Linked DNA regions of Homo sapiens: region 1 is linked to region 2. Evidence: fine-mapped expression QTL. A gene starts in region 2. The other region holds a variant in brackets. All regions are shown on one strand. Distances are from middle to middle.

Region 1 (4,505 bases), 30 kb before region 2:
GGCAAAGCAGGGCCTGAGGTCACCTGATCAGGATGCCCTTTTCTTTTTGAGATACGGTCTCACTTTGTTACCCAGGCTGGCGGGCAGTGGTGCCATCTCAGCTGACTGCAACCTCCGCCCCACCAGGTTCAAGCAATTCTCCTGCCTCAGCCTCCCTAGTAGCTGGGATTATAGGTGTGTGTCACCACACCTGGCTAACTTTTGTATTTTTTTTTTGTTCGTTTTGAGACCGAGTCTCGCTCTGTTGCCCAAGCTGGAGTGCAGTGGCGCGATCTCGGCTCACTGCAACCTCCGCCTCCGGGTTGAAGCGATTCTCCTGTCTCGCCCTCCCGAGTAGCTGGGACTACAGGCGTGTGCCACCACACCCGGCTGATTTTTTTTTTTTTTTTTTAGTAGAGACAGGGTTTCACCATGTTAGCCAGGATGGTCTCAATACCCTGACCTCGTGATCCGCCCTCCTTGGCCTCCCAAAGTGCTGGGATTACAGGCGTGAGCCACCGCGCCCGGCAACTTTTTTTTTTTTTTTTTTTTTTTTTTGAGACAGAGTCTCGCTCTGTTGCCCAGGCTGGAGTGCAATGGCATGATCTCGACTCACTGCAACCTCCACCTCCTAGGTTCAAGCGATTCTCCTGCCTCAGCCTCCTGAGTAGCTGGGATTACAGGCACATGCCACCAGGCCTGGCTAATTTTTGTATTTTTAGTAGAGACGGGGTTTCACCATGTTGGTCAGGATGGTCTTGAACTCCTGACCTTTTAATCCCCCCGCCTCGGCCTCCCAAAGTGCTGGGATTACAGGCATGAGCCACCGTGCCCGGCCCAACTTTTGTATTTTTAATAGAGATGGGGGTTTCTGCTGTGTTGGCCAGGCTGGTCTCAAACTTCTGACCTCAGATGATCCGTCTGCCTCGGCCTCCCAGAGTGCTGGGATTACAGGCGTGAGCCACCGCTCCCGGCCCCCTTTGCCTCTTAAAGGCCTCACCTCTTTTTTTATTTTTATTTTTATTTTTATTTTTATTTTTATTGATCATTCTTGGGTGTTTCTCACAGAGGGGGATTTGGCAGGGTCATAGGACAATAGTGGAGGGAAGGTCAGCAGATAAACAAGTGAACAAAGGTCTCTGGTTTTCCTAGGCAGAGGACCCTGCAGCCTTCCGCAGTGTTTGTGTCCCTGGGTACTTGAGATTAGGGAGTGGTGATGACTCTTAAGGAGCATGCTGCCTTCAAGCATCTGTTTAACAAAGCACATCTTGCACCGCCCTTAATCCATTCAACCCTGAGTGGACACAGCACATGTTTCAGAGAGCACAGGGTTGGGGATAAGGTCACAGATCAACAGGATCCCAAGGCAGAAGAATTTTTCTTAGTACAGAACAAAATGAAAAGTCTCCCATGTCTACCTCTTTCTACACAGACACGGCAACCATCCGATTTCTCAATCTTTTCCCCACCTTTCCCGCCTTCCTATTCTACAAAGCCGCCATTGTCATCCTGGCCCGTTCTAAATGAGCTGTTGGGCACACCTCCCAGACGGGGTGGTGGCCGGGCAGAGGGGTTCCTCACTTCCCAGTAGGGGTGGCCGGGCAGAGGCGCCCCTCACCTCCCGGACGGGGCGGCTGGCTGGGCGGGGGGCTGACCCCCCCACCTCCCTCCCGGATGGGGCGGCTGAAGGCCTCACCTCTTAATGCTGTTACATTGGGGATAAAGTTTCAGCATGAGTTTAGAGGGGACAATCATCCCATCCATACCCCTAAATCCCCTGGATACCGGCTTCTCAGTTACTCCTCAGCACACCATGAATGGAGGTCTTTTGGGGCTCTGCACTCACCTCCTCCATGGCTTCACCTCACCCACCTGTCTCCTGGTCCTCCTCCCCAGCAGCTCCCCAGAACCCTCAAGCTCCAAAAGCTCCAACCTGCTCTTCGTTCTGTTTGCCCCACTCAGAGACCACCCATTCTGGCTCTCAGTGGCTTTCTGAGCCCCTTCCTGCTTCTGCTTAAGCCCTAAAATCCCCTTTTTTTTTTTTTTTTTGAGACAGAGTCTCGATCTGTCACCCAGGCTGGAGTGCAGTGGCGAGATCTCGGCTCACTGCAACCTCCGCTTCCCGGGTTCAGGCCATTCTCCTGTCTCAGCCTCCCGAGTAGCTGGGACTACAGGCAGCCGTCACCACACCCGGCTAATTTTTGTATTTTTACTAGAGACGGGCTTTCACCATATTGGTCAGGCTGTCTT[G/C]AACTCCTGACCTCAGGTGATCTGCCCGCCTCAGCCTCCCAAAGTGTTGGGATTACAGGCGTGAGTCACTGGGCCCGGCCTAAAGTCCCTTTTTCTGTGCAGCAGTTAGAGGGATGTTTCTGCAACACCCACCATCATTCCCTCTGCTCAAAACCTTGCAGTGGTGAGCAACCTACTTGCAGAAAGCGGGCCCATTGTTACCCCAACCTGACTGCCGATCACCTTACCTGAGCCTGGAGGTGGAGGCTGCTAGGATCACACCAATGCACTCCAGCCTGGGTGACAGAGTGAGACCCTATCTCAAAGCAAACAAAACAGGGCCAGGCGCAGTGGCTCACGCCTGTAATCGCAGCACTTTGGGAGGCCAAGGCGGACGTATCACGAGGTCAAGAAATCAAGACCATCCTGGCTAACATGGTGAAACCCCATCTCTACTAAAAATGCAAAAAAATTAGCCAGGCATGGTGGCGGGCATCTGTCGTCCCAGCTACTCCGGAGGCTGAGGCAGGAGAATGGCGTGAACCCGGGAGGCGGAGGTGGCAGTGAGCCGAGATCATGCCACTGCACTCCAGCTTGGATGACAGAGTGAGACCCTCAAAAAACAAACAATGAAAGTCACATATTGTAGGACATGTTCACAACAGGTAAATTTATCATGGAGGCAGAAGGTAGACTGGCGTCTACCCAGGGCTGGCAGGGAGGGGCGGATGGGGAATCACTGCTTCAAAGGCACAGGTTTCCTTTCAGGGTGCCGGAAAGGTTCTGTACCCACATAGCTGTGATAGTTGCACAACACTGTGAATGTCGCTAATAGTAAATTTTATGTGCACTTACCACAGTTTTTTTTGAGACGGAATCTTGCTCTGTTGCCCAGGCCGGAGTACAGTGGCACGATCTCGGCTCACTGAAACCTCTGCCTCCCAGGTTCAAACGATTCTCCTGCCTCAGCCTCCTGAGTAGCTAGGATTACACGCGTGCACCACCACACCCAGATAATTTTTGTATTTTTAGTAAAGACGTAATTTTGCCATGTTGGCCTGCTTGGTCTTGAACTCCTGATGTCAGGTGATCCACCCACCTCAGCCTCCCAAAGTGCTGGGATTACGGGAGTGAGCCACTGTGCCTGGCCCACAATTTTTTAAAAGTATGTAAGAGGGCTGAGGCAGGCAGATCGCTTGAACTCAGGAGTTCTATAGCAGCCTAGGCAACATGGCAAAAACCCATCTCTACAAAATATACAAAAATTAGCTAGTGATGGGCACCTGTAGTCCCAGCTACTTGGGTGGTTGAGGTAGAGGCTGCAGTGAGCTGAGATCACGGCACTGCACTCCAGCCTGGGCGACAGAGCAAGGTGCTGTTTCAAAAAAAAATCTGGCCAGGCTCGGTGGCTCATGCCTGTCATCCCAGCACTTTGGGAGGCCAAGGGGGACGGATCACCTGAGGTCAGGAGTTCAAAACCAGCATGGCCAACATGGTGAAACTCCGTCTCTCCTAAAAATATAAAAAAATTAGCCGGGTGTGGTGGCAGTTGCCTGTAGTCCCAGCTACTCAGGAGGCTGAGGCAGGAGAATCGCTTGAACCTGGGAGGCGGAGATTGCAGTGAACCAAGATCGTGCCGTTGCATTCTAGCCTAGGTGACAGAGCGAGACTCCATCTCAAAAAACAAAAACAGGCCGGGCGCGGTGGCTCATGCTTGTAATCCCAGCACTTTGGGAGGCCGAGGCGGGCAGATCGTGAGGTCAAGAGCTTGAGACCATCTAGGCCAACATGGTGAAACCCTGTCTCTACTAAAAATACAAAAATTAGCTGGCCATGGTGGTGCACTCCTGTAGTCCCAGCTACTCGGGAGGCTGAGGCAGGACAATCATTTGAACCCAGGAGGCGGAGGCTGCAGTGAGATCGCGCCATTGCACTCCAGCCTAGGTGATAGAGTGAGACTCTGTCTCAAAAACAAACACCCCAAACAAACAAAAACCAAAAACAACCCCCATCTCCAAAACCAAAAATTCAACGTGGCTGGGAGTCGTGGCTCACGCCTGTCATCCTAGCACTTTGGGAGGCCGAAATGGGAAAATGGTTTGAGGCTAGGAGTTTGAGACCAGCCTAGTCTAAACAGCAAGACCCTGTCTCTATTTAAAATACATAATGCAAATAAATTTTAAAAAATTTAAAAAGTGGCTGGGCACGGTGGCTCACGCCTGTAATCCCAGCACTTTGGGAGGCCGAGGCGGGCGGATCACGAGGTCAGGAGATCGAGACCATCCTGGCTATCACGG
Region 2 (4,255 bases):
CCGCCAGTCTGCGTTCTGTGTCTGCGGTTTTCCTGCTCCAGCCATATTCCATATCACTGGGATACCGCCGGGCTTTGTTGTCGGCTTTGTCCACTTAGTATCATGTGTTCAAGGTTCATCCATGTGGTTGTCATTCCTATTTATTTATTTATTTATTTTATTTAATTAATTAATTTATTTTTGAGACAGATTCTTGCTCTGTTGCCCAGGCTGGAGTGCAGTGGCGCGATCTCGGCTTACTGCAAGCTCCACCTCCGGGGTTCACACCATTCTCCTGCCTCAGCCTCCCAAGTAGCTGGGACTACAGGTGCCCGCCACCACGCCCGGCTAATTTTTTTTTGTATTTTTTAGTAGAGATGGGGTTTCACCGTGTTAGCCAGAATGGTCTCAATCTCCTGACCTCGTGATCCGCGCACCCTGGCCTCCCAAAGTGCTGGGATTACAGGTGGGAGCCACCGGGCCCGGACTCAAAAACATGTTATCTTAAGGTATTGGAATGGGTAGTGTGGACTACACATTGTGAATATACTTACGGCCACGGGGTTGTACATTGCAAAATGGCTAGAATGGTAAATGTGAGGCATATTTTAAAGATTTTTATGTACACACACACACACATTACCTCCGGTAAAAAAGGAAAAGTGTTCGTACAATGACAATTTTTTTACTCGAGTGCCTCCCCACTTTACCATATAAAAAGACAACGTAAGCCGGGCGCGGTGGCTCACGCCTGTAATCCCAGCACTTTGGGAGGCCGAGGCGGGTGGATCACGAGGTCAGGAGATCAAGACCATCCTGGCTAACATGGTGAAACCCCGTCTCCACTAAAAATACCAAAAAAAAAAAATTAGCCGGGCGTGGTGGCGGGCGCCTGTAGTCCCAGCTACTTGGGCGGCTGAGGTAGAAGAATGGTGTGAACCCGGGAGGCGGAGCTTGCAGTGAGCGGAGATCGTGCCACTGCACTCCAGCCTGGCGACAGAGCAAGACTCCGTCTCAAAAAAAAAAAAAAAAAAAAAAAAAAAAAGACAAAGTAGAGTTTGGAGTCAGAAAGTCAGGCCTGACTGAGATTGCAGTGAGCCGGAACCGCGCCATTGCACGCCAGCCTGGGTGACAGAGGGAGCCTCTGTCTCAAAAAAAAAAAAATAATAATTTTTTTTTTTGCATTTTGTTGAGATATATTCAAATATGCTACAGAAATGATCCCTTCAGAAACTCAGTTTTTACAAAAATTAGTGGGCATAGTGGTGGGTCCCTGTAATCCCAGCTATTTGGGAGGCTGAGGAGGGAGAATCGCTTGAACCCAGGAGGCACAGGTTGCAGTGATCGGAGATTGCGCCACTGCACTCCAGTCTGGCGACTGGAGAGCAAGACTACATCTCCAAAAAAAAAAAAAAAAAAAAAAAAAGTCAGTTTGAAGTTGGTCTTAGTTTGTCCCTCTCAAGTTTGTAGAGAGAGCCCAGGCAGCTCCCTCAGCCCAGACAGAGAGGACGGAACCAAGTTCAGAGGCACCAGGAGCCTGGAGTCCTGAAGCTGTGCAAAGTTGGGCACAGCCCTGAGTCTGGGGGGTTGGGGAGGGCAGGGGCTGTGACTTACTTGCGGAGGGGGAGGGCCTCCTCTCAGGAGCCACAGCAGGGACTGCTGCACCGGGAGGTCCAGGTCAGCATGTCCTGGAAGCAGAACTGCTGGCGCCTAGGCGTGCCCTCTCGGTGCCCTCAGCTCGGCCTCCTGTCTGGAGGGAGCGCACAGGCTTCTCTTCCAAAAGTACTTTTTCTATCCTTTCCAGTGGGTTTTACCAAGGGTTCTGACGGGCGGGTAGGTACGAGGTTCTGTGCCACATGGGAGTGTTAACAAACGTAATTTTATTCCAAAAGATTCCAATTCTTTTCCACTTCCAATTGAATAACTTAGATAACAGCTCATATCCCCGCCAACTTTATTTTTATTTATTTATTTATTTTGAGACGGAATCTTGCTCTGTGGCCCAAGCTGGAGTGCAGTGGCACAATCTCGGCTCACTGCAGCCTCCACCTCCCAGATTCCAGCGATTCTTCTGCCTCAGCCTCCCAGGCATAGGCACGCACCACCACGCCCAGCTAATTTTTTTCTTTTGTATTTTTCAGTACAGATAGGGTTTCATCATGTTGGCCAGGCTGATCTCGAACTCCTGACCTCAGGTGATCCGCCCGCCTCTGCCTCTTAAAGTGCTAGGATTACAGGCGTGAGCCACCGCGCCCGGCCTCCGCCAACTTTAAAAACAGAAACTTTTATCTCATGACGAACGAACCCAGGTAGAGCGGCAAGGTTCTGTTTCGAAACTTGGGTTCTAAACACAAACCGAGCGTCGACAGACGTGGTTCTCCGACAGCACCCCGCGAGCGCGGACCCCCGCGGGTCCTGACCCCACGCCCGCCCTCCCTCGGCGCCGCCCGCTCACCTGCGCCCGCGTCCGGCTCCACCAGCACCCGCTGGCTCCCGAAGCGCCGCGCGCCGTCTCCGCCGCCGGCCGCCCGCTCCGTCCGCCCGAGGGCCGCGCCCGGGAGCCGGGCCCCTGCGAAGGCAGCGTGGGGGAGCCCGTTAGTTCCCGGTCCTGGCCCCGGCCCCGGCCCGATCCCTGCCCACCCCGGGTTTCGCACCCGCGCGGAGCAGAACGCGCGCCGGGACTCGCACAGAAGCCACCAGCGCCATCTTGACCGCAACGCGCGGGATAAAGGTCGCGGGCTGAGCTCGCCTCCTGGGGAGGGGGCGGAGCCCCCCCAACTAGGTCCCGCCCCGTTCCCAGAGGCTGGTCAACGCCTCCACCTACCGGCCGAAACAGCCGCTCGCCGCCCTCCGGCTTCACCCCGGGCAGCCGCGCGCTTCCGGGGCAGGCACCTGGATCTGGGCCAGGGCTGGCCTACAAGGAGGCGCAGGCCCACTGCTGAAGCAGCCACGACCAGCTCAGCGCCAGGGCAGGCTCTTCTACAGCGCGGGACACTGTAGGCAAGAGGCTGCCGGTGTTCGTGACCGCGAGCTCTCGGCCGGGCCCAGCTACTGCAGTATCGGCGCTGGAAAGGCGATCAAAGCACGGAACCCCTCCCGAGGGGGCCGTCAGGGAGGCCAGGGGCTGCCTGGGGTGAGCCCGGCCTCCTGCCCCTTTGGGAACAGGATCAGAGCTGCAGGTTTAGTCACCGAAATGGGGGTGGGGGCAGCAGAACCCAGCGGTAAGAACAGGCCACCCGCCTTGCTCAGCACAAGGGCAAGTGCACAAAGGCCGGACCGCAGTGGCACCTTTTTATTTGCAGAGAAATGCCGAAAGATAAGAATACAGTCTGTTCCCGCTGGGCCGTAAGCGGCAGCTCGGGAGTGGGCCTTTGTACTGTCTGGTGTGGGGTTTTGGTCAGACCACTGGGAGCACTGGGCAGTAAGGTCCCAGCTGTGTTGGGTGGTCTCAACTTTTGTTCTCATCTTAAGCATTTCCAATTCTTCCTTGTGTCCCAAACCAATTTTTGAGGTGGAAAAATGGCCACTTAACGGAGGAGGAAGCAAGCCTGGCATGGTGACACACACCTGTAACCCCAGTGACTCAGGACCAGCTGGGTAACATAGCAACAACTTGTTGCTACAAAAAATTCTTAAAAATTAGCTCCTGCTGCTGGGCGCGGTGGCTCATGCCTGTAATCCCAGCACTTTGGGGGCCAAGGTGGGCAAATCATGAGGTCAGGAGTTTGAGACCAGCCGGGCCAATATGATGAAACGCCGTCTCTACTAGAAATACAAAAAATTAGCTGGGCATGGTGGCAGGTGCCTGTAATTCCAGCTACTCAGGAGGCTGAGGCAGGAAAATCACTTGAACCCAGGAGGCAGAGGTTGTAGTGAGCCAATATTGCGCCACTGCACTCCAACCCAGGCAACAGAGACTGTCTCAAAAAAAAAATTAAAAAATTAAAAAAAAATTAGCCCCTGCTACTCTGGACACTGAAGAAGGAGTTGGAGGCTGTAATGAGCTATGATCGCACCATGGTACATACTCCAGCCTGGGTGACAGAGCGAGAGTCTGTCTGAAAACACACACACATTCCAAGGTGGCGATAAAACCATCTCCTTCTATTTGTCCACCCTAGGAGCAACCTGGTCCCCACAGCACACAAACCCTAGGTTCTCCTGGCTGAAAGCATCGGAGGTGCCACTGCGGATGGTGAGGAACAGAAAGTTACTAGGGGCGAGGGGACAAGTGAGAAGGCAGTGAACCCAGAACTAGATTTGCATTCCGATCTTG

What was found.
Region 1: its variant is fine-mapped to the expression of ECI1 in whole blood (TOPMed, PIP 0.97).

The regions. Positions count from the first base shown.
Region 1 is chr16:2,218,336-2,222,840 of GRCh38, forward strand. No RefSeq gene overlaps it. Among named protein-coding and RNA genes, the nearest start is that of E4F1, 3.0 kb to the right of the region's middle. RefSeq lists an enhancer at 1,596-2,220. The variant G/C (reference allele first, on the strand shown) is at 2,230.
Region 2 is chr16:2,248,882-2,253,136 of GRCh38, forward strand. It overlaps ECI1 (enoyl-CoA delta isomerase 1), which reads right to left and starts at 2,706. Exons shown (of 7, transcript NM_001919.4): 1 at 2,634-2,706; 2 at 2,435-2,548. The coding sequence starts at 2,685. RNPS1 (RNA binding protein with serine rich domain 1) reads right to left here. Exons shown (of 8, transcript NM_080594.4): 8 at 4,239-4,255. LOC107984839 (a long non-coding RNA gene) reads left to right here and starts at 2,789. Exons shown (of 2, transcript XR_001752052.2): 1 at 2,789-3,112; 2 at 4,101-4,255. RefSeq lists enhancers at 2,038-2,167, 3,098-3,157 and a silencer at 2,378-2,847.